Linked DNA regions of Homo sapiens. The protein of the gene in region 3 interacts with the protein of the main gene of each other region in a pairwise test. Each region holds a gene or a part of one and is shown on either strand. Other genes may lie near its edges. The genes, in order: ATP7A, MAGI2, PDZD11 and SLC5A6.

Region 1 (7,025 bases), 7.7 Mb from region 3:
ACATAATTAAATTCCATTGAATATACATTTTTTGTTTCAGTTCAAAGGTAAGAGCTGTCAGGAAATACGAAAACTTTGGGACAGCTCTGGAGTCAGTTTAATTTGAATGCCTAAATATAAAATTATAGTTAAAATCCTATTATTTATTTCAACTACTTTTGTTTTTAAAAGAGCACTGGCTTCCCCCATTATATAAATACATAGCTACATACATACATTCTTATTGTAAAAACAACTTATAAAACCAGGAAACACAATGGAAACAAAAATCACATTTATCCTACCACCCAAAGATAATCACTGTTAAAATTTTGGTTCATATCCTACCAGGAATCTTATTCATATACATAAACAATATATACATGGCGTAAATTCAGATACATTTCTTTATAAAATTTTGATCACATTGTATATATAGCTTTTCAGCTTTTTTTCATTTAACAAAATACCTCAGACACCTTCCTGTGGCATTAATTATCTTTAATACCATAATGTTTTATGACTTCATAGCATTTCATCATGAGTTATTTATTGTTGCACCACGAGTTATTGTTTCCAGTTTTTAAATATCATAAGCAATTATACAAACATCCTTATGCATCTTTGTATATACTGCTGGCTACCTCCATAGGACATATTTGCAAAAGTGGAATTACAGTGCCTATGAATCATTTCTCATTGATAAATGCCAAAAGAAGCAGCAAAATGGAAGTAAAAGAACATTAGGGTAATCAAAGAAAAAATGATAATTACCTGACAAGGTAGCATCAAATCCCATGTCTTCTATTGCTCCTCTCAACGTTTCTGGAGAGGTTAGTAGAGGATCATACTCAACAGTCCCATTGCTATTTGCAAGGGAGACTCGTATGGATTTTACACCTGGCTTTTTTGATATGACACCCTCAATAGACTGCACACAGGAATTACAAGTCATGCCATCAATGTTTATCACAGTTTCTTGTGTCAGAGGCTGGCTAACTACATTCAAAGGAATCTTCTGAAGAGATGAGCTGGAGGGAGAGTTTGAGGTACTCTCAACTTCACTTGTGATACTAACTCTATATAGCCCCGGTGATACAGCCTCTATTGCTTTTCTCAGGGATTCTGGAGTGACTGAGCTTGCATTATACTTCACAATGGCAGACCTATTCTCTAAAGAAACTACTATGCTGCTTACATATTGGAGTGCAGATAAAGTACTTTCAATATTTGACACACATGATTTACAATGCATGCCATCAATGATGAAAGTGGCTGTTGAATCATTGGTATATGATGGACTCCTTTGCTGTGACCCTTCTGAGGATTTAACTGGTGTGTTCTTTAGACGTTCTACATCAATAGCTCCCAATTTGAGGTACTTGGGCTGCTTTTTGACAAATGCTGGAAAGCCCATAGCTTCAATCTGCTTTTTCATTTCCTCTACTGAGATAAGATGAGGTTGATAAACAATAGTAGCTTCTTGATTGTCCAGGGAGACTAGTTAATAAAAAGAAATATAATTAATTCAGTTATTCCTGGGCTACTTCAGAAAACATTCTGTTTTCTAAATCAATAACCACAAATAATTGTTTCTCTCTCATTCTTGTCATCATATTTTCTTAATTTTTTTTCTTTTCAGAAAATGTTATTGGCATAGACTAGAAACAAGTAAGAGATATGACCACTGTAGCTATGGTCTCCAAGTTTCTCCATGCCTAAGTAAAATATATTAGAGGTAAAGAGTACCCTAGTCATGTTGTGTTAAGAACCTTGAATTCCATGAATTGCCAACCCAGCTGCCTTTTCTTCAGTTCAAGGTTTATGTAACCTTTAATTATAATCATTAACTTTTAATCCTGGGAATATGCTGTACCTCAATGATACAGCAAGCACTCTAGTCTCATGGATTCAAAACTCATGCTTAAGAAGAAAGCAAAAAGTTAAAAGATCAAAACAGACACCTAAGCCTTACAAAACAATCAACACCAGACACATTACCTTTAATTCGCTGAACACCTTGCAGTTTCCCAATTTTTCCTTCAATAGTGCTAGTACATGAATGGCAGGTCATCCCTTCCACTTTCATCTTCAGCACGACTTCACCAGCTTGAGCCATACTATGATCTTCACAAGCTCCTGACTTTTTCTCCAGTGTCCCAGTATCTAAACTGAGTTCTGGAACCAGCTCTTTTATCTGATTGGCATTCACTATAGAAGGGATTATTGTCACTGCTACAGTTCTTTTCTGAGGGTAAATTTTAATGTCTGTCACACCCTTGGTCTTCAGCAATGTGCTTTGGATATGGTCCCATGGCAAAGTCAGTGACGCCGTAACAGTCAGAAACAAGGTGTCAGTTAAAACAGGGAGAGGGTCAGGATTATGGATAACAGCATCAAAGCCCATGTCATCAATAGCTTCCTGTAGGGTCTTTGGAGTCTGTAGTTTAGGGTCATAAATAATAGTTGCATTTTTTTCTTCCAGTGATACCTTTTGGAAGGAAATTCCAAAAGTCAGTTTAATTAAATTCTATCACACAGGATTTAAAATAATAATCATCACACCACATTCAAGAAGAGTGAGACAACTCAATCTAATGGAGTTTCCCTATTAGTTTTCATTTTTACTCTTCTTGTTAGAAAGAAACATAAAATGTCTTGTGTACCTACAAGAATGGTAAAGTTATATATGCAGACATATGTGACTGTGGTACCTATCAGGCATTTGAAACATGTATATTGACAAACACACCCAAGAATTTCACAACAGAGTACAAACTACTCTTTCCTTCCATTCCTTTCATAAATTACTCCAACACTTCACACTCTACCAACTGAAAAGGTTATACATGAAACAGGATCAGCTACAGAAAAATAAAAGGTAATATGAAGTTTAATATTTTAAAATGTCCAATTTCCTAAAAATATGTATAACTATTATATGTCAATTTAAAAAAATAAAAATAATGTTCAATTAGGATAACTTTGTTGGCAAGAAAAGTATAAGCCTGCCGGTTTATGAGTGAAGGCAGTATTCATAGGATTTTATAGCATATACTCCTATATCCCCCTAAGTCACTAGAGCATACTATTAATTTTGTTCAAAATAAGAACATCTTTATTGTTTTGCCCAATTAGATTATAAAACAATGATTATATTCTTGTAGCTTAGTTACTGCATATAATTTAACTACTGTCATGATTGCATCTCTTTGGCTGACATCTTACAAAGATTCATGATGAAGACACACACACACACACACACACACACACACACACACACACACAAATACTGGGTTGGGAGTCAGAAGATTTAAGTTCCAGCATCAATTCTCCACTTATTAGCTAACCACACCCATTAGTTCTACCATCTGAAAAATGAGAAAATATGCCCTATTATCTTCCAGGGCTATTACAAGGATCATACGAGTAAATAGGAAAGTTCTTCGTAACAGCAGTGAATTATATAAAATTAAACATTGAGCAACTAATATTTATTGAGCACTTATTATGTGCGTCAGGAACTGGGATTCTCAGGATACAAAGCTGAACATGTCACAGGAACAATAGGACAGAGAATACAGAAAAGGGATACCCATTCATCCCTGGGAATATGGGTCAGAAAAGTATTCTTAGGAGAGATAATACCTGAATGTTAAAGGACAAACAGGAATCAGCAAGGATATATGAGGCAGAGAATTCCAGATGAATGGAAACAAAAAAGTAGAGAAAGATAAGAGGCTTGAAAATTAGGCAACTGCTCTATTATGGGGTTCTATATGCCAATAATGGTTGTGATTTATCCTATAGGTAATAGGAAGCCATGGAAAAGTTAAGCAGAGAATTATGTGATTAGATTTTCATTTTAGAGAAGGATCATTCTGGAGGCAGTGTGGAAGATGATAGTGTAGTAGGGTGGAGTGATACAGGAGGGAGGACTATCAGCTAGGAGGCTACTGCAATTGCAAAAGTAGTGCAATAGAGGGTCTGAATTAAGACATGAATACTGGGGGCAAAGATAAAAGAGGCAGCTCCAAGATACATTCAGGAGGGTAGGGCCTCCTAACAAGATGTATAGGATAAAGGAGACGACTAGGATGACTTAAAGGTATCTGGCTTGGGCCAGTGGATAGATAGATGGTGGCGTCATTAACTGATATCAGAAAGAGAGGAGGAAATCAGGAGGAAATTAAGAGGTTAAAGTGGAGGGAAAGGAGAGATGATAAATTCAGTGCTGGACCTATTGATTTTTGAGATGGCCATAGGATATTAATATTCAAAAAAGCAGTTAAATATAGGTGTTATTAATTTCTAGTGAAAAGCTTTGCTCTATAAAATAAAAACTCAAAATTATAATTAAAAGTAATTCAGCATAGAAAATCTCTCTTTAAATTGTCTACAATAGTTAAATCTTTCACTTATTTTAATGAACATATTTTTATTTCTTCCTTTAGCTTGATAATTGATGACTGTGTATTTGGGTGAAAATGTGAAATGTACCCATGGCATGGAAAGTTTCTAAGACTCTGATAATTCTAGTTGGCTAGCTGGTTCTTAGGGATGGAGGAAATCACTAGCATAAATGATCCAAAACAGAAGTGGGGAAATAAATTATATTTGGTTTTGGATAATACTATATAACATTTTCCATGAAAAAAAAATGCAGAATAGTCAAACCACGTATAGTTGAGACATATAGTATTGAAAGACATGCAATATAAGAGTAGCCACCATCAAATGAAGGCTTTTGTGTCCTTGTGTTTTTAAAGAAGGCCTCTTTTAAACTTTAATTTCCCTCCCCTGAGGTGATTTTAGGGTTAAGAAAATGACTGTAAATAATTTAAACTTTCCAACTAAAGGGGAAGATGGAGAACAGAACAGTGGTTTCCAGGGGTTAGAGGTAGGGAAAATGGTAGCAAGAGGGAGTTTTTTAGGGGTAACAGGGCTGCGCTATGTCCTGGTTGTGTTGGTGTTAAACAAATCTATACATGTGTTAACATTCACAAAACTAAAAAAAAATTTCATAGAACTATATACCCAAAAAAAGTCTATTTTACTAGATGATTATTTTTTAAAACAAAAAAAACTATTAAATAAGATTAAAAATTCAGTTCCTCGGTTGCACTAGCCACATTTCAAGTGTTCATTGGCCAATGTGGTTAGTCCTACCAGACAGGGCGGATACACAGTATTTCCATCATCACAGACCATTCTTGGGTGGTATTGCTCTAGGTACTACTATACTTTTTCTGATAAAGTACCAACGTAAAGGATTCTTGCCCTTTAAATACGTTGTATCCGGTACATCTTAAACAAGACCTGGTTCCCCCGCACCCACCCCCCCCAAAAATGTCAATTTACCAACATAGCCAATCAGAAATTGTTCTCATTTTAAAAGCAAAAATCACTTCCTCAGGCCAGGTGGCACACGCCTGTAATCCTAGCACTTTGGGATGCTGAGGTGGTTGGGCAGATAGCTTGAGCTCAGGAATTCCAGACCAGTCTGGGCAACATGGTGGAACCCTGTCTCCACAAAAAATACAAAAATTACCCAGGCATGGTGACACACTCCTGTAGTCCCAGCTGCTCAAGGGGCTGAGGTGGGAGGATTGCCTGAGCCTGAAGGTCAAGGCTGCAGTGAGCCAAAGTCGTGCCACTGCACTCCAGCCTGGGTGACAGAGTGACACTGTCTCAAAAAAAAAAATCACTTTGTCACTGGATGGTTTGCTATACTTTCTAACTGCTTTAGCCTATCTTTTATTTATAAAAGGCATAAGAAAACTATGCATAAAATACTACACAAAAGAGAAGTCAAAGTACCCTACGCTATTTGCATGCTGCAGATGAGAAAACACTTCCTTTAGTAAATTCTATTTCTGTTTTAAAAGCTGACCAACCACACTCAGCACAAACAAAAGTATCCCTCTTTGGGGTAACAGCACTCAACTTTGCCTCTGAATGTTAGATAGCAAAGAGACTTTTCAAACCTAAGGTCTCAAAGGAAACAAATTCACAGTACAGCTCTGGGTGCTAAATCTTTGGGCAGGAAGTCAAAATGGTACTTATTGGCTGGGCGTGGTGGCTCACACCTGTAATCCCAGCACTTTGGGAGGCTGAGGTGTGCGGATCACTTGAGGTCACAGTTTGAGGCCAGCCTAGCCAATGCAGGAAAACCCGTCTCTACCAAAAATACAAAAATTAGCTGGCCGTGGTGGTGGGTGCCTGTAATCCCAGCTACTCGGGAGGCTGAGGCAGGAGAATCACTTGAAGAACCACTTGAAGAACCACTTGAAGAATCACTTGAAGAACCTCGGGAGGTGGAGGTTGCAGTGAGCCGACATTGCACCACTGCACTCCAGGCTGGGCGGCAAAACAAGACTTCGCCTCAAAAAAAAAAAAAGGTACTTATGTATTCAACAAATATTTATTGAATGTCCATTATGTGCCCGGCACTATGCTAGCTGCTAGAGATACAGTGATGAGCAAAACCAGGCAGACTCCATAGAGCTGGAAAGTGCTGGCGGCAGTCTGATTCCGGGTCTGTGCTGCTCTCCTTTCATATGTCCTCTAACCCCAACCCCTGCTCCAAAAATAACTTCCCTTCTCTGCCCTACCCCACCTTCCTCATTCCCCACATTGCTCCAATATTTCGACAGCTTGTCTTTTTCTCTTAATCTTTTATTAGGAACCAATGTTGTTATTTTTATTTTCAGAGGAACTATTTTTCCATTATATCAATCGTTCCTCTGGGCCGGAGTGGTGGCTCATGCCTGTAATCCCAGCACTTTGGGAGGCCGAGGTGGGTGTATCACTTAAGGCCAGGAGTTCGAGACCAGCCTGGCCAACATGGTGAAACCCCGTCTCTACTAAAAATGTAAAAATTATCTGGGCATGGTGGCGGGCGCCTGTAATCCCAGCTACTCAAGAGGCTGAGGCACAAGAATCGCTTGAACCCGGGAGGCGGAGGTCGTGCCACTGCACTCCAGCCTGGACAAGAGAGTGAAACTCCGTCTCGGAAAAAAAAAAAAGTTCCTCTGAAAATAAAT
Region 2 (7,025 bases), on a different chromosome or scaffold from region 3:
GTGCTTTTTCACAAGGTTCTGGTTGAACCATCATTTTTACCTTGACTTCGTAAGGAGCCAAATAAAAAGCATACAATATGGCATTTGTCAGAGATTTTTAAATAATATTTAACCTTCTCATAATCCTGAGCATCCAACAGGACCACCGAGAGGAGTGGTTTGTGTGAGCTGTCATGGCTGGCCCACCTCTGGAGGCCGTGTGATCACTCTAGCCTCTTTAGAATGCAGAGTTACAAAAGCAAATCCCATTTCCATTGATTTAGTTACAGGTCGGAAGTGAAAGCAAGGCAAGATGTGAAACCAGACATCCGACAGCCTCCATTCACAGACTACAGGCAGCCCCCGCTGGATTACAGGCAACCCCCAGGAGGGGACTACCAGCAGCCCCCACCCTTGGACTACAGGCAGCCTCCCCTACTGGACTACAGGCAGCACTCCCCCGACACCAGGCAGTACCCTCTGTCGGACTACAGACAACCCCAGGTACCTCCTCCCGGAGAGCAGGGTGGGTCCTGACCAAGGCTTCCAGAGAACTGCAAGGAATGAAATAGGAGAGGCAGAGGAAAGAGTACCTGTCTGGGATGGAGAGCTGAAGTTCTATTCCTAGTTCTGGTAACATCGGGGTAACACCTGCATCCTCAGAAACATGCTGGATAAATAAATCTATTTCAGAATAAAGCAGGACAATAAATAAATATGGATAAATACATAAATAAATAGCGGATGAGTAGTAATGGAATAAACTAATCCCTGCTAATACTAGCTAACTCCTTGTACGTTTCCTTGTCAAAGTTTTAAAAATGCTCTAACCTGGGACCTCTGAGAGTGCTGCTAATGCAGAAAATTTTATAGATGCTAGCAGTGGAGGTATTTTAGGTCCATATTTTTTTACGTGGCCCCCTACCTGCCACTCTGTGATAAAGGGCCAAGCCCCTGTGCGTAAGAATAAGACCAGGCTTGGCTTCACAATCCAGAGTGTAGCGCCTGCCACAGCCAACAACTCTCTGTCTACACAACCAGTGTCACTGTTGTTATGATTATTTGTTGATGTGCTTCATGTCAACTTCCTTAACTTCTCTGAGATTCAGTTTCCTAAAGGGAGAGTCTTCCTTACAGGCCAGGATGAGGATTCAACATTTATGAAAAGAGTCTAGACCAGAGTTTGGTATCTAGAAAATATTTCCTACTTCGTAACTACATACCAAGATATAAATTAAGTACAATCTCAACTCTATCAGATTACATTGTGTTTTATTATGAATTGAAGATCAACTTTATGCCCAAAGATTTTAAGAATAGTGAAGATCAGAGAATCTTGGACATACTGCATTTTAGGTAAAAGAGAAATTGATTTTGTACATTCCAACTTGATATTCAATAGTCTGTGCAACTGAGAGATCTAATTATCAGATCCCACTAAATTTTACTTTTCTAATCAGCAAACTCTGTAATTTGTACACACACACACACACACACACACACACACCTGACATTTATTTATGGTGCTCAATAGCAGTGAATGAGAGAAGTAAAAGGAGAGATGATGTCACTCAGGCCTATCTGTAATCATTCCACGTTTGCCAAGTAAACTGATGAATACCAAAGTAAACAAGCTACACAGTAATTCTTTGATGACCAAGTAAACTGTGCTCTGGCCTGCTCAAACCTTTGGAATTTTGTCTTTCATTTGGGTAGTTTATGAAGCCAGATTACGACTTCTCCCAACATCATGTCATTTGGAATACATTAACTAAGAGACAGAAGGAGAACACAGAGACTAGCCACAGAAGCTTCTCTGATAACTAAATAATTATTTATTCCATTTTCTCCCCAACCCCAAAGGATTTTGATTATTTCACTGTGGACATGGAGAAAGGAGCCAAAGGATTTGGATTCAGCATTCGTGGAGGAAGGGAATACAAAATGGATTTGTATGTGTTGAGACTGGCAGAAGATGGACCAGCAATAAGGAATGGGAGGATGAGGGTAAGAACAGTCTCTTTTTATAGAATTGCTTAATTCTGAAAGAAAAACCGACTGTGGTATTGGAAGAGTACTGAAGCATGCTGTCAAGCGGGGTTGCTGTAGGTTTGCCCTCTTTCTAGTTGATGATGACCCAGTTTCTTAAAAGTCTGGCCACTTGCTATTTTATAATATCTCTCATTCTCATTTTTCTGCTTATGACCTTCTAATTGATTAACCTCAGTAAAGTACTATTTTTCTAAAGAGCAAATGAAAGAAATCTAAGAAATAGCTTGAAAAGGAAACATTATTTCTCCATAATTCTTTCTATGGTTTGATGATTCTGTTTTGATTAAGGTTGAATCTTTTGAAATTTATTTTTAGTTTTGTGCTTTTTCCCCCATATTGATTAATCACATGGTTTTGCGGGACTTTTAGGAAATTTTTCCTTTGTGTTGACTGGTCTTTTGGTTTGATACTGGGCAGACAGAAGCATTAGGAGTAAAAGGGATTTGGCTTCTTGGATACAGGTTGTTCTTAAAAATGACAGCAGGGGCCGGGCGTGGTGGCTCACACCGGTAATCCTAGCACTTTGGGAGGCTGAGGCGGGAGGATCACAAGGTCAAGAGATGGAGAACAACCTGGCTAACACTGTGAAACCCCATCTCTACTAAAAATACAAAAAAATTAGCCAGGCGTGGTGGCGGGCGCCTGTAGTCCTAGCTACTCAGGAGGCTGAGGCAGGAGAATCGCTTGAGCCCAGGGAGGCGGAGGTTGCAGTGAGCCAAGATCGTGCCACTGCACTCCAGCCTGGGCAACAGAGTGAGAATCTGTCTCAAGAAAAAAAAAAAAAAAAGACAGCAGCTAGAAATTTTCCAATTAAAGTTAAGAGTAGATTTTTTCATTTAATAATTACTTTGAGGCATCTGATTGATGGGTAACTGATTCTTCATTTAAGGGTATAAAACAAAGCTTGTTAACAATATAAAATATTAGTCTCTTTACTCTCTCTGTGTGTTTGTGTGTGTGTGTGTGTCGGTGTATGAATAAAATCTAGAATTTATTCTTGCCCTCCCTCCTGCCTCTTTAAGTTAATAAAGAAAAGCTGTGGCTTTGGGGTTCCGGAACCTCAGGTTCTTGTGCAGAGCCTCACCAACCAATTTTCCCTGATGGCTGAATCTGTTATTTCTACCACCAAGTCTGCATTTCTATGATACGCATTTCCAAGTCAGAGGATTATCCACAGTCCAAAAGCAGAAGGCATGCACATCATGTCTTTGTTTCTCCCCACTACCACAATCCTTTGACAGCTGGGAAGCATCCAAGTTGGAATTTAAACCCAGGCAGGGCTGACACCAGAGACTGGCAGCCCTCCCCGTGATCTAGCACCAGCCTCCTCTTACCCCGTCTAGCCCTGATTTGAAGATGGGCCTCCACATGGTTTCCTGGCTCTACAGCTTCCCTATAAGCCAGAAGGACACTTTCTTAACCTGCTATAAGGCCAGCTCACAAGCAGTTAAGTAAAACAAAATTAATCTTTCCAGTGCAGGTGAAACACAGTAGGAAGACCATGTGCAAAATGGCCAGAGCCCTGTGAGAGATAGAGACCCACGGTGGACTACAGGGCTGGTCTCTGTCGGTTACAAACAGTGGCCATGTATTTTCACAAGGGATCTAAATGACTCGCTGCTGGATATACACAGTACTCCCAAGGCAAAGAAGCCTAAATAGAGAAATACCCTTGCAGGAAAAGATTCCTCTTTCTTACAGAATTTAAGCCAGAGCAATGGTTCTCAGCACGGTTCCTGGCATCAGCATCACCTGGAAACTTGGTAGAAATGTAGATTCTCTAGCCCCACCCAAAACTGCTGAATCAGAAACTCTAGGAGTGGGGTCACCAGGCTATGTTTTAGGAAGCTCTTCAGGTGAAACTCTGAGGTTTTACCTTCCGAGGTTTTATTATAGATACCTGTGTCAACTGCAATCCAAAAATATTACATAAAATTTTTCAGAAATAAACAATTATAAATTTTAAATTGTGCAGCGTTGTGAGTATCGTGCTGAAATTTTGTCCTTCCCAGAAGGTGAAACAGCCCTTTATCCACACTGTAGATGCTACCTGCCCACTGGTTACTCAGCAGCCCTCTCGATTATCAGATTGACTATCATGGTATCGCACTGCCCGTGTTCAAGTAACCGTTGTTTTACTTAGTAATGGCCCCAAAGTGCAAGAGTAGTGATGCTGGCATTTTGTTATAATTGTTCTTTTTTTATTGTTTTTGATCCCTTGCTGTGTCTAATTTGTAAATTAAACTTTATCATAGATATATATAGGGAAAACAGTGTATATAGGGTTAGTTCTGCCTGTGATTTCAGGCATCCGCTGGAGATGTTGGAATATATGCAAGAGGTATGAGAGGGAGCTACTATATTCACTTTATCAAAAAACCAGTGGAGAGTAGCAAGTTTTGACTTTAATTATTATACTAGATGGTTTTTCAACATCAGTTAATACTGATGTATTAAAAGTTGAATAGATAAAACAAAACACAATCTGTGAATGCAGAAAATAAGGGGAATAATAAAAAGAGATATATCATTGTCACGTCTGCTTGCTTTTCTTCAGTCAGTCAAGAAGGCTGGTGTCATAAGAGAAACACAATGGACATTCAGATTTTAAGGAAAAGGATAATAAATTATTAGAAAATATTACTGGAGCTGTTTATAAAAAGAAGACTTACGTTTGTAAAATGGCCTAATAAAATTGGGAGGGATGAAATTTTCATAGCTAGTGAATAAAATCTCTGATACAAAGCTCCTAGGAATATAACCTAATTAAAAGCCAAAACTAAATAGAAAACACAGGCAAAAAATAATGAACATAAAAAATAATATTGGCAAAGCTCAGTAAAACAGGGAATGTAAGAAATCAGGAGACATTTGGAGGGAAAGAATAGAAATTCTAAGTGCTTAAATAAAAATCTGAGAGTCAAGTTAAAAGAGAAATCTGAAAGGAGATCGTTTGCTCTTAAAATGGTAAAATATTTTCCTGTTTCCATAAAAGTGTAATATAGTTCGCATTTCCATAAAATGTATTTTTATGATGAAAAAGAACATTATTTCATAACTTCATCACTTGCAGCTGGGTACCATTTGTGTATGCCTATTTAGCATCACATAAGCTTATTTATAAGATGGTTTACCTACTTTCTGAAACTCACATGATGCAAAAGTCTGCCTGCAATGGGCTTTGGAATGACTAAAACATTTTGTTCAACCAATCAATGCACAAAAAAATATCATTTGCCCATCTTTTTTTTAAAGGAAAAGCAACATTCCCTGAAATTAGCTTCTTCTAAATTTGTCACCTTTCCTTCTATAGACCAGATATAACTAGTCAATACAAAAGCATCTTGGTTTATATATTGTTTTTATTAAACATAAAACGATTTACAAGAATATTTCTAACATATGTAATAAGTGTAAATACTAACCATGATTCAAGGACCCATGAACCCATAGCCCCACTTAAAAAACAGAACATTACCAAGCTCCCATGATTTCATTCTCCTCCTACTCTCCAGCCCTCAGAGGGAACCACCTTCCTAAATAAAGCACTTGACATTTCTTCTGTTGTTACCACAGATGTGTGTATCTCTCAACTATAACCTTTAGCTTGGTGCACTTTGTGAACTTTATGTAACTGAACCATACTGTACATGTTCTTCTCTGTGGTTTGCTTTCTATATGTTATGTTCATGAGATTCATCCAAGGTTGGTGCATGAAGCTATAGTCCATTTATTTTTCACTGCTATAAGTTATTTCATTATGTGAATATGCTACAACCTATAATAATTATCTATTTTTCCATTTTATGGACATTTGAGATTTTCCCTGTCAATTTACACTTTGGTTGTTTCCAAGTTTGTTGTAACTCATACAATCTTTGTACATCTTTCCTGCTGTACCTATGCAAGACTTTCTCTAGACTAGACTAGATGCCTTGGAGGGCACAAATTTAACTTACCTAAGTAACACAAAAGTATTGTCCAAGGTGGTTTTACAAAGTTATACTTGTATTAGCATATGTAAAAAAGTTTTTCTTACTACACACACTCACAAGATTTGTACGTCAGACTTTTAAACTCTCATTCTGGTAGGTAGAAAATTATATATTTTAGATTTGGATTTGCATTTCTTGATTACAAATTCATATTCATCATTTTTTCTTATATTTATTAGACGTTCATGTTCTCTCTTAACTAAAAAATGCCTGTACATGTCTTTCCTCATTTTCTGTTGAATATTTCTTCATGTTGATTATAGAAATGCTTATATATTATTGGTGATCTTTTTCATCAATTAATGTGATACAGATATCTTATGCCAGCTTATGGCTTGCAGTTTCACTTTCTTTATGATGCTCTTTGATAATGAGAAAGTCTTAATTTTAGCGTAATTGGCTTAACCCTTTTTTTTTTTTTTATAGTTTCTGCTTTCTGTGTCTTGTTTGAGAAATCATTCTCCAAGACATGGTCTTAAACGTCTTCTCTTATATCTTCTTCTAAAAGTTGTATAGTTTTACTTTTTATATCTAAGTATTTAATCACCTACAGTTGATTTCTCTGTATGATATAAGGTAGAACCTCAATCTCAATTTTTCCATATGGATAACCACATGTCACAGCATCATTATTTTTTTTTTTTTTTTTTTTTGAGACGGAGTCTCGCTCTGTCGCCCAGGCTGGAGTGCAGTGGCGGGATCTCGGCTCACTGCAAGCTCCGCCTCCCGGGTTCACGCCATTCTCCTGCCTCAGCCTCCCAAGTAGCTGGGACTACAGGCGCCCGCCACTACGCCCGGCTAATTTTTTGTATTTTTAGTAGAGACGGGGTTTCACCGTTTTAGCCGGGATGGTCTCGATCTCCTGACCTCGTGATCCGCCCGCCTCGGCCTCCCAAAGTGCTGGGATTCCAGGCGTGAGCCACCGCGCCCGGTCCACAGCATCATTATTTAATGAGTATTTCTTTGTCCCACCCCCCACCAATCTGCAATGACAGCTCT
Region 3 (7,234 bases):
AAAAGTAAAAAAATATATTTTTTTAAAAAGAAAAAAGCTTACAGAATAAAGATGCAGAGTGAAAATGTTTATTCCGCTGTGCAATGTATTTGTGTTTTAAGCTAAGTATTATTACAAAAAAGTCAAAAAGATTTAAAAAATTAAAGTTTATAAAGTAAAAAACGTATAATAAGCGAAGGTTAATTTATGATTGAAGAAAGACACAAAGTTTAATAAATTTAGTGTAAGCTAAGTATCCAGTGTTTATAAAGTCTACAGTAGTATACAATAATGTTTTAGGCCCTTACATTCACTCACCACTCATCACTGACTCACTCAGAGCAACTTCCAGTCCTGCAAGCTCCATTCACGGTAATTGCCCTATACGGGTGTATCAGTTTTTACCTTTCATACTGTATTTTTACCTCACCTTTTCTATACTTAGATCACAAATATTTTCCATGATGTTACAACCGCCTACAGTATTCAGTACAGTAACATGCTTTGCAGGTTTGTAGCCTAGGAGCAGTAGGCTCAGGTGTATAGGAGGCTATACTATCTAGGTTTGTATACATGCACTCCACCATGTTCATACAATGACAAAACCGCCTAATAATGCACTTCTCAGAAGGTATCCCTGTCGTTAACTGATGCATAATTATAACTTGCTACTTAATTGTACAGTAGTAGCTTCTAAAACTATAAGCATGGCACCTAAAAGGAACTACAAATGCAAATTTACTTCAAGGTGAAAAAAATAATGACCTTAGGGAAGTCTGTTCCTTATTAGTGTGGCAGACATGTTGTCAAGGAACACAAAGCAAGCTTTCTCTGTTAAATGATCATCATATTTATGTCAAAGCTGTTATCTGCTATTTACCAAGATAATTTTGCAGTCTGAAGGAAAAAACCCTTTAAACTTTGAAACAACGTTTTAATCTAAATGAAAACTTTGAAGTTTTGAAAAAACTTGTTGGTCTAAATGAAGGATCATAAGAAGATGCTAAATTGAGATTTTCACTGTAATAGACCGCTGGTATCAGCTGGCATGACTATGGGGCAAGAGAATAACATTCCATAATTTTCTGCAATACCACAGATATGTGCAGATAGCAATAACTTGGGAAATGAGGTTTTAGTAGTTTTTACAAAATACTTAGGGCTCTGTGGTACCAGGAGTTCAGAGTACAAGAGGGTGCTGTTGAGCTGACTATAAAAAATATTGACTTTGTTTTTGCAACCAAGGGTAATGTTAAGCAAACACATGTATATTGGAATCACTTTCTACTTTATGTTGCCTTTAAAGAACATAATTTAATTCTATCAGTTTCCCAAGTTAAGAATGTAAAAGTAGAACTGTGGTGCTCTTACTAAGCTGTGGAGGTATAGCCTGAGGAATCTGACCAGATAGTGCAGGGTCTGAAAAGCATATTGTTTCAGGAATGGCTAAAGGAAAGGCGGGGATAATTGAAGAGAATTAGGTAGAAACACTTAACGGTTTTCCAAATACTGTATGTAAAAAGGAAAAAGATTATAGTGGAGAAGCCCAGCAGATTAACACCTTAATCAAATGATCAAAATGAACATCAGTAGTAATAGAATAAATCAAAATCATGTGCTGCCCAATAGGCTTCAGTGAGAAGAAAACAGCACCACTTCTGTGATATTCCTGCTAAAAGATACACAACCTGAATCTAATCATAAGTAAATGCCAGACAAAACAATATTGAGAAAAGGTTTACAAAATAACTGGCCTGTAATCTTCAAAGTGTCAAACTCATAAAAGTCAAAAAAAGACTAAAGAACTGTTTTAGAATGGAGACTAAAGAGACAGCAAAACTAAATAAAACGTGATTTTGAACTAGATCTTTTTGCCATAAAATATTTACTGGGACAATTGGTGAAACTTGAATGGGGTTTCAGGAATAGATGGTAGTAATGTAGCAGTGCAAATTTTATTGTTTTGATGGTTGTATTGTGGTAACTTAGAAGAAAGTCCTTTTTTGTAGGAAATATACACTAAAGTATGGGGGGTTATCAGGCCAATGATTCATCTCAAATGGTTCAGGGAAAAAATGTTTTTTATGCTGTTCTTGCAACATTCTATACGTTTGAAATTATTGCATTAATATCTTAAAATTTTGAAACAAAAATTTCAGTGTTCCTTGAGCCATATCATTAAACAAAAAAACGTGAAAAAATATGTGAATAGCTGTTGCCTAGAAGAAGGCTTCTAAAGGAATGAACTAACATCACTGGGTAGAAATTACCAGGAAGCAAATTTCATCTCATTATAAAGATCTTTATAACATAATTAGACTTGTCCAAAACCCAAATCTCAACTGGACTACCTGTGAGTCAGTGAGTTCCCTGTCAAAAAAATTTTAGACACTGGCAGTTCACCTAACAGATATTGTTAGAACGCATTTTTCTTTGGATGAAAAACAAACTAGATGATATACAAATGTCTCTTTCAACTTTAAGGCACTAGCATGCCATGATTCTACTTCTTTTAAACGAACCTCTGTTTTGAATCTTGAATAACCACTGTATTAGAATAATAATTAGACATCTCTCAGGCACTGCTCCCTTCTTTAGAACCCTGCTATGGTCCTCAACAGCATTAAAGACTTAGCTTCCCCAGTAAAGATTATTAACTGGTGATAGTATTCAGAGGCTTTAGGCACTCCCCTTCTCCACCTAAAAGAAGTATACTCATTATTCAAGACCCATCTCAAAGTTTTCCCACTCTGTGAAATTCACCCCAAATTCCCCAAGCAGAGTTAGAGCCATCCTTTTGTTTTTCATACCACTTTGTATGAGAGCAGAGCTACTACTTCCATAGGACTGACTCTGTTGTATATTTTTAACTTGAAAAATTTTTCTTCTAAAAGATAGGTACAAAAAATTTAAAAATTTTTATATATTCAAAATTATTTATGTAGTCATCTATCTCCATTCCTATCCCCTGGACTTTGAACTCCTTCAGGGCCTCGAAGCTATATTATTTATCACCTGAATCCCTCAACAAGCTTTGCAGTGCCTGGGCCTCAAGTAGGTTGGCACACTTATCACCATCAGCAACCACCACAGAGTTTATAATCTAATGAAGTTCCAGGATAAACAAACATATACAAGTCAAAGATGAACAGAACCACATAAAGCAAATACAGAATAAAACTAGCTTCAAGGGTACAGAGACGTTGACAAATGTTATTAGGCTAAGGGCTTCTTGAAGGCAGGAATCATGATTCATCGATTCCTGTATTTGCAGTGCCCAAGCACAGTGCTTGGCACATAGTATATGCTCAAGGAATATATATGTTACGTTCGAGGAATCAAATCGCCTTACCTTTAAATACACCTTTTATGAGTGGCGCTACTGCTGTATTGAAGACTTCTTCCTGTTCAGTAGAGGGATCAAATACAAAATCGTAGGTGAAGGATTTATCTGTACCAACCACCACCTAGAGAAGGCACGGGACAAGGCGTAAGGTTAAAAATGAAAGGCAAGACCACACCCCTCGTTACCATTTGGCCCCAGCTGTTCAGACACAGGCTCTGGACTCTGCTACGCACCTGAGGCTCTCCGGGCACGAAGGAAAGGCACATCTGGCAGCCCTCGCTAATCTCTTTGGGGACCAGAGGGCGACAACGCAGCGCCACTCTTACGGGAATTCCCTTCACCTCTTCCTTCATGATCCTATCTCAGCACCGTCTCTGCGAGGGGGAAAAAGAAGGCTCGCTGATGAATGTTAGTAGGTCAGCAGGGGTGGGAGGGCGTCCTCCCCGGTTCCGACCCTCCTCAGCGGGAACACTGACTTGGGAGATTCACGCTCCATGACTTGGCCAGGGCTGGACCGCCCGTCAGCCCTGCACTCTAAAGAGAGTGCACGGGCTTCTGAAAGGCAAAGAAAAAACTCCAACGGGGACGGCGACAAAGAACCAAAGCCCTAGGGTACTGGGTAAAAACAGGTTCTGAGCTAAGGTGTGCCCCCGTAACTCACCAAACTAAATGTCCCTTCCCCGTTCTCCCTGGGCCTCCCGCCGCCCTGTCCCAGCCGGAGCTTTAACCGCCAAGTTTCAAATCCGTCCCGGAGACGCCAACCAATTGCAGTGCGGACTGCCCGAGGGCGGAGCGCGCACGTCGGCGCGCGCAGGCCGGCGCGGTGGGAAGGGGAGGGTCAGCTCGTTGCACCCTGGCCCGGCCTCTTTTCGACCCTGCGGAGCATCCGCTTCCGGTTCCCAGACTGAATTGTCAGTGAGCGGAGTCTGAGGTCGCTGTGGACTGCCCACTGGTGAGGTGGTGCGGCGTTTATGCGGCTGAGAGTGCGGGTCTCAGGCAGAATGTGGGGCGGGGACGTGGGAGGTGGCTGGTCAGGTGAAGGAAGGGTCGATCTAAGGACCCTACCATTACTAATCACATCTAGGAAATGTGGGGCGGTGCCTTGCCCCGAGTCCCTGCGGATAGTTAACACTCCCTTGGGCTTCGAAAGTAGATCTTTTTAGACTCGACCCTGATTTCCTCTTCTCCAGGTTTGAGACGGTAACATCTGTTTTGCAGGATTGTGAAAAATGAGGTCCTCTTTCTAGAGTACCTGACAGGTTGCTTGGCATCCAGAAGATGTTTAGCTAAGTTAAGAGTTTTCTTCTGTCTTCCTTCTCTCCTCCAACCTTAACACCTAGATATGGGCTGGGCCTGTAGACTGACTGCCTTGGAATGGGTTGGAGCTGCTGTCTGAAACTTGCTGGGCTGCTCTCCCTTTTGAACCACTTTTTGTCTGTTCTGATTCACTCTTCCAGGGCCTTGCCCGAGATGGACAGCCGGATTCCTTATGATGACTACCCGGTGGTTTTCTTGCCTGCCTATGAGAATCCTCCAGCATGGATTCCTCCTCATGAGGTGGGAACCATCTGTATTCCTGAGTAGGAGATTTTTTTCCCCGTGGGCATGAGATGATGCATGAAAGGTAGGATAGCAGGGTTAGAAGGCGAAACGGAGAGTGAATCTTAGCACTTGTAGCCAGAGGACCCAGAAGCTGGATTCTGAGCAACAGGACCCATTGGGAACTTCTTTATGGAAGCCTCCTGCTAGGGTCTGTTCACACCGGTTAATTCTGGAAATTTGGAGCCTTCATTTCCATACTGTTAAGAGGTTCAGCGCGGTGGCTCATGCCTGTAATCCCAGCACTTTGGGAGGCCGAAACAGGCGGATCACCTGAGGTTGGGAGTTCGAGACCAGCCTGACCAACATGGAGAAACCGCGTCTCTACTAAAAATACAAAATTAGCCGGGCGTGGTGGCACATGCCTGTAATCCCAGCTACTAGGGAGGCTGAGGCGGGAGAATTGCTTGAACCTGGGAGGCAGAGGTTGCGGTGAGCTGAGATTGAGCCATTGCACTCCAGCCTGGGCAACAAGAGCAAAACTCCATCTCAAAAAAAAAAAAAAAAGGTGAAGAAATGGGGAGCTACTGGGCTGCCCCAGTGCTATCCATCTACTCATTTAGTCTGTGTTATCTGTTCTACTTAAATTAAGTCTATGACCTTTCCTTTTCCTGACTTCAGGGTAATTCATTAGTGTTTCAGATGAAGGTAGGTGTGAAGTAAGACTGGTAAAATTTCTGGGGTTGCTGTGTCTTGCAGAGGGTACACCACCCGGACTACAACAATGAGTTGACCCAGTTTCTGCCCCGAACCATCACACTGAAGAAGCCTCCTGGAGCTCAGGTGAACTTATGAAACCTTATTTCAGGCTAGATTCATCCATACCACAAATTGGCAGTGTTGGGGGGATGGATTGGAAAGCAGGTGCAGATGTGAGGAAACTTTCCTTCTTGTGGACAGAAAAGCTGAGATAACACTTCTGCAACTTCTGACTTTCCTCTCAGGGACACACAAGCTGAGCTATTGTACGATGATGCTACTAGTTGTTCTTGTGTTTGTGGTCTCCATTGAGCCCCCATTCTGTGCTCTTGTCTTACAGTTGGGATTTAACATCCGAGGAGGAAAGGCCTCCCAGCTAGGCATCTTCATCTCCAAGGTATTTATGCCCAGTAGGCAATATGGATCGTTACTTCCCTTTGTTAAATTAACAGATTGCAGAACCCTAATGTCCCAAGGGCTGAGAGGATGACTCTGGATTCATAGAAGGGGTATAATGGAGACACCCCCTTTCCCACTTAAAACTTTTCATTTGGCAGGCCATCTGTCTGCATACATTGTCACAGAAAAACAATAGCACCATACATTTGAATAGCACCGAATTTCACTGACAGTCTTCTGAAATTATCGCATCCCAATCACATGTATTCTCTCTTTACCAACAGGTGATTCCTGACTCTGATGCACATAGAGCAGGACTGCAGGAAGGGGACCAAGTTCTAGCTGTGAATGATGTGGATTTCCAAGATATTGAGCACAGCAAGGTGAGCACAGTACTTGGGCTGTGGTGCTGCAAGAAGCCATCTCAAATAGGACAGATTGGACAGGAGTAGCCTAATCTGTAACTTAATAAGAAAGCATTTTGCTGGGCACTGTGGTACACGCCTGTAATCCCAGCTACTTAGGAGGCTGAGGCGGGAGGATCACTTGAGCCCAGGAATTTAAGACCAGCCCAGGCAACGCAGCAAGACCCTGTCTCAAAACAAACAAACAAACAAACAAAAAGAGAGAGAGAAAGTAAGCACCTCTCCTGGGAAAGTACAGGAGGGAAGCAGCTATTAGTGACACACAGGTTGGAGTGGCAAATCCCTTTCCCCCTATTATGATTCTGTCTTGGGTCATATCTCTTCATTTGTACAAGCTGCTGTGTTCCTTCCAGGCTGTTGAGATCCTGAAGACAGCTCGTGAAATCAGCATGCGTGTGCGCTTCTTTCCCTACAGTAAGTGCCACTTTCTTTTTTCACTTTCCTGACAGGGCCCTAAGTAAGAACTCTTTAAATACTGATGACTAGAGGCCCTACAAGTTGGGGATAGGGAATCAGGAGCTCAAGCGTGAAGATAACCTGCTCTGTTCCTCCTTTTCTTCTTCTTTCCTTCAGATTATCATCGCCAAAAAGAGAGGACTGTGCACTAGAAAGTTGCAGCCCACAGCCCTTCATGTGGACTCTGTCATGACATGCTAACTAGACTTCAGGGGAGCCACTTCTGTTTTCAGCCCCTCCCTGGAATAGTGAGTTGGGAGGATGGGGAGACAGCTAACCAACTGCATTACCCAAACCATATTGCACTTTTAGTTCCCTAGTTTTCTAGGTG
Region 4 (7,025 bases), on a different chromosome or scaffold from region 3:
GTTTGGGAGGCCGAGGCGGGAGGATCACCTGAGGTCAGGAGCTCCAGACTAGCCTGGCCAACATGGTAAAACCCCGTCTCTACTACAAATACAAAAATTAGCCAGACACGGTGGCACATGCCTGTAGTCCCTCAGCTACTTAGGAGGCTGAGACAGGAGAATCACTTGAATGTGGGAGGTGGAGGTTGCAGTCAACTGAGATCGCGCCACTGCACTCCAGCCTGAGCAACAGAATGAGACTCTGTCTCAAAAAAAAAAAAAAAAAAAAAAGAACTCCAGAGGGCAGGAAAGGCTGCTAGGGGGCTGATGGAGAGGGATGTGTTTTGAGTTCTCTGAGGCTGATCCTTAGCTCTCTCTCAGCCTACAACATCCCAGGAATGACCCTGCGTCCTCTGGCTGCTTGCAAGTCTGTTCACAGTAAAGACGGTCCATCAAAGGGGAATCTCTTACGCCTGCCCCCCGGTCATTCCCCTCAATATAGCTGCCCTTCTCAACTTCCTGTTTCAATCAATTCCTTCTCTCCCTTAAAATTGCTTCCTACCCTCTATAGTTATTACCTGCAGCACAGGTCCCATCTGGGAGGAAATATAGGCCATTCCTAGACAAAGCAGCCCATAGCCAAAGGCTGGGGGAAAAGGACAGGAGAGGAAACAAGAAGGTGTGAGTTAACACAAGCAATGGGGTAAAGCAAGGCTCCCTGCCCAGCCAAACTACCACCTCTGTCTCTCTGGAAACAAAAGGCATATTACATCACGCCCCAGCTTCCTCCCACCAAGTCCTCACTCCTATGTGACTCAGAGACCTCCCTAGGACATGCCCTGAGATGGAAACAACCATGCATGCAGGGAAGGTTGTGTGCTTCATTAGGCAAGTGCTGAGCCCCGGATAAAGTGGGTGTTTTACAGCAAACTGATGACAATGGTCAGGATGAAGCTTAGAAAGACCCAGACTGAAGAGATGAGGAAGCATAACCCCACCAAGGCCTCTGGAAAGCATGATGGCCCGGGCTTCAGAGAACTCAGGGAACCAAGGTCGAATCAGGTCTTCCATCGTAACAGTTGCCAATGAATTAAAAGCAGAGGATATAGTGCTGAAAAAGAGGAAGAGGATGAGGAGTTGAGCGAGGCAAAATTGTCAGCTCTATGGGACTCTATGGAGGAAATGGTGTCCTAAAGCGGGGAGATGACAGGTACCACCAAGAAACCTCCTCATAGTTGGACTTGATGCCACCTCAGAGCGGGCCTGGAAGGCAAGGACACAGTCCTTTTTTGAATGTGGATATGGGTTTCATTCGAGTAGATCAATTTCTGGTACCATAAAAGAACTCTTAACCAAAACAGGGGTATCTCTGTTGTGCTGTGGCCTACAAAGATGAGCTATCCCTTGTCATGCACACAGATGGGGCAGGCACAGTGAGAAACTTAGAGGGATTCCCCACCCACTATCACCCCGCTCCACCCATCACCTTGTACCAAATAGGGGTCAGGTGCACCAGGCCTGAGGGAAATCGTTAAAGTGGGTACCTGAGAGAGCCGCTGAAGAGGCAGGCAATGAAGAGCCCTGGCAGGCCTGGCAGGCCCTTCAGGAGATCCATCACAAAGTACAGGACGAACTGCAAGCAGAGCGGAGGTACACAGCAGTCCTCAGAGAGGGGTCTTCCCAGGGCCGGCTCTGCAGGGAAGCTCCCTTTACATGTGCCCCAGCGAGTCTACCGAGACTGGGTGCATTACAAGGGAAGCCAGGGCCTGGGGCACCTCTGCTGACCCAAGTGTCTACACATTAAGTGGAGAGAAAATGAGCTCTACAGAGGGAATGACACAATTCGCCCGCAGCTCTGTTTCTGGCTACTAGTGTGACTTCTGCTTACTGGCTACCTCATTGAGTCTGTTTTCTCCTCTGTGAAATGAGGCTGTTAGAGGCTTAGGTGAGACCAGGTATGTGATAGCTCCCAGCAGAGCACATGGAGCCCAATGGGGAGTCAGTAAGGGTAGGTCCTCACCCCAGTAGGATGAGCACTGTGGTTAGGTGATGCTAGGGACCGCGATCCTCACATGCTAGATTCCTAGCATCTCAGAGTGGGAAAGGATTTTACAACCGTCTCCCACCCAGGGTGGGAGTCCTTTCTGCAGTCAGTCCTTTCCTACCTAGACACTCCTGTTGTGGGGCCAGGCCTGCCCTCATGGGAACAGAACAGCGCCTTCTCACCTGGTCTGGGGCTGCCTGAGCCTGCTGAATGCTCATGGGATACTCCTGGTAATACGCGAACATGACCAGGCCAATGAGGCAGCCCACGCAGAGGGACACCTGCTGGAAGGGGAACACTGCATAACAGGAGCTGCAAAAGAGGTCAGTGCCAGGAGGAGAGCCGGCGTTAACAGACACCCTCAGGTGTGTGCCCCTGACCTCCAGAAAGGAGACCCACATCCTGACCACAGTGGATGTGTATGCACTCTGGCATCCTGCCCCACCCCAATTATCTCTGGGGAACCCCTTCCCCTAGACCTTGCTCCACTCCCTTCCTGTCCCTGCACTCACAGCACAGCAGCCTTCTCCGTGCGGGAACTGAGGTACCGCTGCACCTGAGCCTGGTTCACCCCGTATAAGGAGAGCATCATGAAGACACCCCCGAAGGCCAAGGTCCAGAAGGTGTGCCGCACAAAGGGGTCTGGATCCAGCCTGTAACAGACACCACCCAGTCATTGTGCAAAGCCTGAGAGACACAGCCTTCCTGCCCTCTTGGCAACAGGAGTCAGTGGACAGGAAAGGAGAGACACCACTGCTAGGGCCAAGGGGGACACTGAAAGCAAGAAGCTGGGTGCACTCGAGAGACAGCACAGCCAGTTAGAGGGAGGCTCCATTCTTCCACCCCAGGCTCATTCCAGGTACTCATCCCAGGTAATGTCCTGACTCTCTATAAACACTAGCCGGGCACCTGTAATCACCCTCCATCTCTGCAGGACCAGTTTCCCACTGTCTGCTGTTACACCTCAGGCTTCCCAGTTTACCTTCTGCTTACTATAGCCAAGACCAGCCTCTAGGATGGGCTCAGCGCCCAGGCACTGCAGACCCCAGCCAGGAGTAGGGGTATACTTACTCAAACCCAGAGATGCGGCCGTGCTGGGAAGCCACGGCCCACACACGCCCCAAGCCGCCCACCTTGGCTGACCCCACAATGATAACTGCCAGCTGCCCGAGGAACATGACCAGTGTCTGGAACACATCTGTCCAGATGACGGCCTTCAGCCCACCCTGCAAGGAAAGCACAGCAAACCTGCCACAGAGGCCTTCTAAACCCAGCTTGTCCAACCTGCCTTATTTTGTTGTTGCTCCATTTTGTTTTGTTTTGTTTTGTTTTAGGCTTTTTGCAGCCTGAAGCCAGTTTTTAGTTTCTGTCTCTGGTGATATGTATAAAAGAGGGATGACGAAGGGGCTTTACTGACCCAACCAGAAACAGAAACTAAGAACCCATGACTATATTCTCTCCCTTGGACACTCCTGAAACCATCCACCCTAAGAACATACTACCAGTGAGGGGACTCTCCTGCCATTAGGCATGTAATTGCTGTGACCCTGTTGACATCATTCCCATCCCATCCTCTACCTTCATATACCATCCCCACTGCTAAATCCTATCATAAATCTTACCACCCCAGAATTTCACCTATTCTCCTCATCTATATTCTCAGCTTATCTCTTCTTTTCCTTCTCTTCCCATGTCCCCTCCTTACTTCATCCCTTCCCCTCCCCACACCACGGCTTACTGCACTTACCAGAGCTGTATAGACGGTACAGACAATGCCCAGGGCCAGCACGGACAGCCACAGATCAAAGCCAGTCACTGTAAGCATAGAAGCCACATTCTTATCCCTGGAAAAGGGTTCCCCAGGGGAGAAGCCCTGGTAGGGCAATCACGTCATGCCACAGAGATAAAGCATTGGTCATTAACAATGAAATAAATCATTCACCACAACGGAGAAAAATGTTTGCAGAGCTCCACCAAAAGATATTGACTAACCAGTTCAGATAGGGCATGGTAACATGTTACTAGCTGTCAATTGAGGTGGACCAAGCCTTCCTCTGGTAGAGACCCACCCAAGGGCCCAAGCGGTGAATTAATTCCCCATTCAAGGTCAGGTTCTTTTCCACATACGCTCCTCCATCTGCCTCTCCCAAAGGTGCTTTCCTAACCTACCACGGCTGAAAGCCAGGGGCTGTGTGACTCCTCACCTGCATTGAGAGCCAATGACGGAGCATAGAGCACAACTCCCATGTAGATCACCTGTTGCATGTGGAAAAAATGTGATGGGGGCCGGAGAATGGTGGGAAGAGAGAGGAAGAAAGATGGGCCTCAGCGCCAATATGCCCATGGCTTCCCCTCACCTAGGCTCACTTCCCTCTTCCTTCTCCTCTCAAATTCTGGCTTGCTGCCACCACAGTATCTGTGCTGGAATTGGAAGGCATGGGCAGCAGGATGCCTCTGGGGTCCTCACAGATGCTAACCTCTAGCAGGAATTTCAATCCTGCCAATCTGAGAGCAGGGGAGACTCCAATTCCCTCAGCATGCTTGCGTTCAGGTCCCCCAACATGCCCTAGGCTCGGTTTCTATCCTCATTCTGCTTACCATCTGAAAGATGAAGGTCACAGTTCCACACACTCGCACAGTTTTATTGAATCGAAGCTCCAGGTACTGGGTATACAGAAAAAAAGATTTTTCTCCTGACTTCACCCCGACAACTCACAGACAAATTCCCTCAAGATGCTCAGGAACATGAGGGAATATCCAACCCATACCCACTCTGAGTCCTACTCGGCATAGCACCCTCCTCTCCAATCCTGCCCCTATACCTAACATCACTGAGAAAGAATTATAAACACACAATGAGTTTTCTGTCCCTCTCATTAGGTGGAGGAGGTCTAGGGTCCCAGGTCCTTCCTATGTGCCTGTCCCTCCTCTCCACCCCAACCCGTGTCCCACGCACTTCTCCCTTCTGTCCCTGCTCACCTCATAGGCACTGGTGAGATGCAGGCGGTAGAAAACGGGGATGAAGATGTGTGCAGGTATCAGCAGCCCCAGAAAGTAGCAGCAGCCCAGGAACCAATATTGGGTCCCAAATCGGTAGATCTCTGACGGCACACCCAGGATGGCCACGGCTGACTGGAAGGTGGCCAGCAGGGACAGTGCCACCGGAAGGCAGCCCATTTTGCGGTCCGCCATCAGCAGCTCACCAACAGTATGCCGGCCCCAGCCACGACAAGCATGGTAGAGCCCAATGGCAAGAGAGAGAACCAGCAGCAGGACGAACACCACATAGTCCATGATGGAGAAGGTAGACATGCCCACGCTTGTGCCCGAGGTTGGGGAAAGAGGGGCTGAGGTGCTCACCCCTACACTCATATCCTCACTGTGTCTGTGATCTGCAGCCAGTTGCTGCTCCAGGGCTCTGGGGTAGGGCAGGGGCGGATGTGTGGCTACAATCTGGCTTCCAGCCACAGTCTCACAGTCTTCCTCCACGGAGTGATACTGTCCAGGGTGAGCTGCAAAGGAATTAGCTCTTAGTGAGGCCTATCTGGCCTTGGTAGCCATTCACCCTTGGGCCTTGTACATCGCATGCCATCAGAAGTGGACCAGCCAGCATAGTGGTAGCCCTTCAAGGTCTAGAGGCCCTGGTATGGGTTTGGTAGGGGACATAAGTGAGGGAGAAGCATCAGAGTGCGACAGCCAGGAGACAATATAACTTGGCCAGGACCTTTGAGTATGCACAGCTGTGAAATTCAACAACCTTCTTAGGTCTCCACCCGAGTACCAAAAGAAAAATAAACTCTAGCCTAAGTTTCTTAGCAGAATTTCCCAGCCCCACTTGAAGGCACAGACCCAGTCACTACAATACACTAAGCCAGCAGAGCCCAGCCTGGCGCCACAGCCCAGCAGGAAACACAGCATGGAGACTAATGGCAGCAGGGCTTCCCCTACTGCCCCTGGCCTCGGCCCTCGCCTCCTGTGATCCCCAGTGTCACCCTTCTAACTGATCATCAGTGAGACTGCCTCTGTGGCAGCCACAGACTCCATTTCAGGCGTCCCCAGGCCAACCCCTTTCTTAAGGTTCTCCCCAACACCACTAGATAAGTGCTGCCACCCACCTCTCAGCCCCTCTACCTGCAACATCACAGTCAACAGCAGACGCAGGAAGAGCGGCTGGATTCAAAAGTGAGAGGGGAAAGGTGAGAGGGCACCATGCTGGAGTCAGGGTTTCAGAATGACGATTCTCCATTCTGGAGAGAAGCAACCCAGTCACGGAGCTGAGAGGCAAAGGGACCAGCCAAAGAGAGTGGTCGTATCCTGCTGGGGACAGACACCTACCTGGAGAAGCAATCCCTGTTCTGAGGCAGAGTTGCCTGGAGCTGCAGAGCTGAGGATCTGGCTCTATGAGTAGCTGAGGTGAGAGATCAGGAATTGGGGGTGGGGTGAAGCTCAGCAGTCATTTGTTCTGGCCCCTTCAGGGAACCAATGGCTGTGTTCCAAATGGCCCTATCACCCTATGGCCCCCAAACTCCAACTCAGCCCTAGAGGCTCCAGAACAGGGAAGAGGGAGCTCATATTCAACAGCATTCCTAGATGGATTAGCCTTTCAGCCTAAAGTACTCTTGGCACTCTGTGCGGGAGGGAGTTGGAAAGAAGGAACTGAAAACATGGGAAAGTTGAAAGTTGATTTTCTAACTCCTGCACAAGAAATGTTAATCCCCCAAGAATACACCACAATCCTCAGAGAAAGAGGGAAGGGATCATAATATTTAAAATCTTAAATCTTTGGACACCACTATTACAACCAACCCCCCACCACTGACGATTTCACAGATAAACACGCTAAGGCTCAGATGGTTCAAGTGACCTTTCCAAAAGCACAGAGCCGACTATTGTCAGAGCATAAATTAGAACCCAGGTCTAGGGATTCACCATCCACCCTGTCTGTTCTCCAAGCGTATCATATTGTCTTCAAAGGCAATCCTCTGGGGTACTTATTGGTATG

What was found.
Region 1: the proteins of PDZD11 (region 3) and ATP7A interact in binary tests that used the Homo sapiens proteins (3 or more experiments, as listed by UniProt).
Region 2: the proteins of PDZD11 (region 3) and MAGI2 interact in binary tests that used the Homo sapiens proteins (3 or more experiments, as listed by UniProt).
Region 4: the proteins of PDZD11 (region 3) and SLC5A6 interact in binary tests that used the Homo sapiens proteins (3 or more experiments, as listed by UniProt).

What each region holds. Positions count from the first base shown.
Region 1 is NC_000023.11:77,983,687-77,990,711, reverse strand, and holds part of ATP7A (copper-transporting ATPase 1), read right to left. Parts: intron 2,471-7,025; coding exon 1,981-2,470; intron 1,480-1,980; coding exon 754-1,479; intron 1-753. UniProt on the Homo sapiens protein: ATP-driven copper (Cu(+)) ion pump that plays an important role in intracellular copper ion homeostasis.
Region 2 is NC_000007.14:78,120,655-78,127,679, reverse strand, and holds part of MAGI2 (membrane-associated guanylate kinase, WW and PDZ domain-containing protein 2), read left to right. Parts: intron 1-263; coding exon 264-483; intron 484-1,842; coding exon 1,843-1,986; intron 1,987-7,025. UniProt on the Homo sapiens protein: Seems to act as a scaffold molecule at synaptic junctions by assembling neurotransmitter receptors and cell adhesion proteins. Plays a role in nerve growth factor (NGF)-induced recruitment of RAPGEF2 to late endosomes and neurite outgrowth.
Region 3 is NC_000023.11:70,286,903-70,294,136, reverse strand, and holds the start of PDZD11 (PDZ domain-containing protein 11), read left to right. Parts: upstream 1-4,209; 5' UTR 4,210-4,277; exon of another isoform or gene 4,278-4,308; intron 4,309-4,515; exon of another isoform or gene 4,516-4,699; coding exon of another isoform or gene 4,700-4,795; coding exon 4,796-4,882; intron 4,883-5,623; coding exon 5,624-5,707; intron 5,708-5,963; coding exon 5,964-6,020; intron 6,021-6,306; coding exon 6,307-6,405; intron 6,406-6,800; coding exon 6,801-6,861; intron 6,862-7,020; coding exon 7,021-7,055; 3' UTR 7,056-7,234. Other genes in the region: chromosome-associated kinesin KIF4A, read right to left, coding at 3,332-3,446, 3,559-3,678. UniProt on the Homo sapiens protein: Mediates docking of ADAM10 to zonula adherens by interacting with PLEKHA7 which is required for PLEKHA7 to interact with the ADAM10-binding protein TSPAN33.
Region 4 is NC_000002.12:27,202,256-27,209,280, forward strand, and holds part of SLC5A6 (sodium-dependent multivitamin transporter), read right to left. Parts: intron 5,536-7,025; 5' UTR 5,396-5,535; coding exon 5,003-5,395; intron 4,688-5,002; coding exon 4,622-4,687; intron 4,280-4,621; coding exon 4,228-4,279; intron 3,839-4,227; coding exon 3,771-3,838; intron 3,250-3,770; coding exon 3,095-3,249; intron 2,677-3,094; coding exon 2,536-2,676; intron 2,336-2,535; coding exon 2,206-2,335; intron 1,613-2,205; coding exon 1,524-1,612; intron 1,091-1,523; coding exon 978-1,090; exon of another isoform or gene 626-977; coding exon 558-625; intron 1-557. UniProt on the Homo sapiens protein: Sodium-dependent multivitamin transporter that mediates the electrogenic transport of pantothenate, biotin, lipoate and iodide.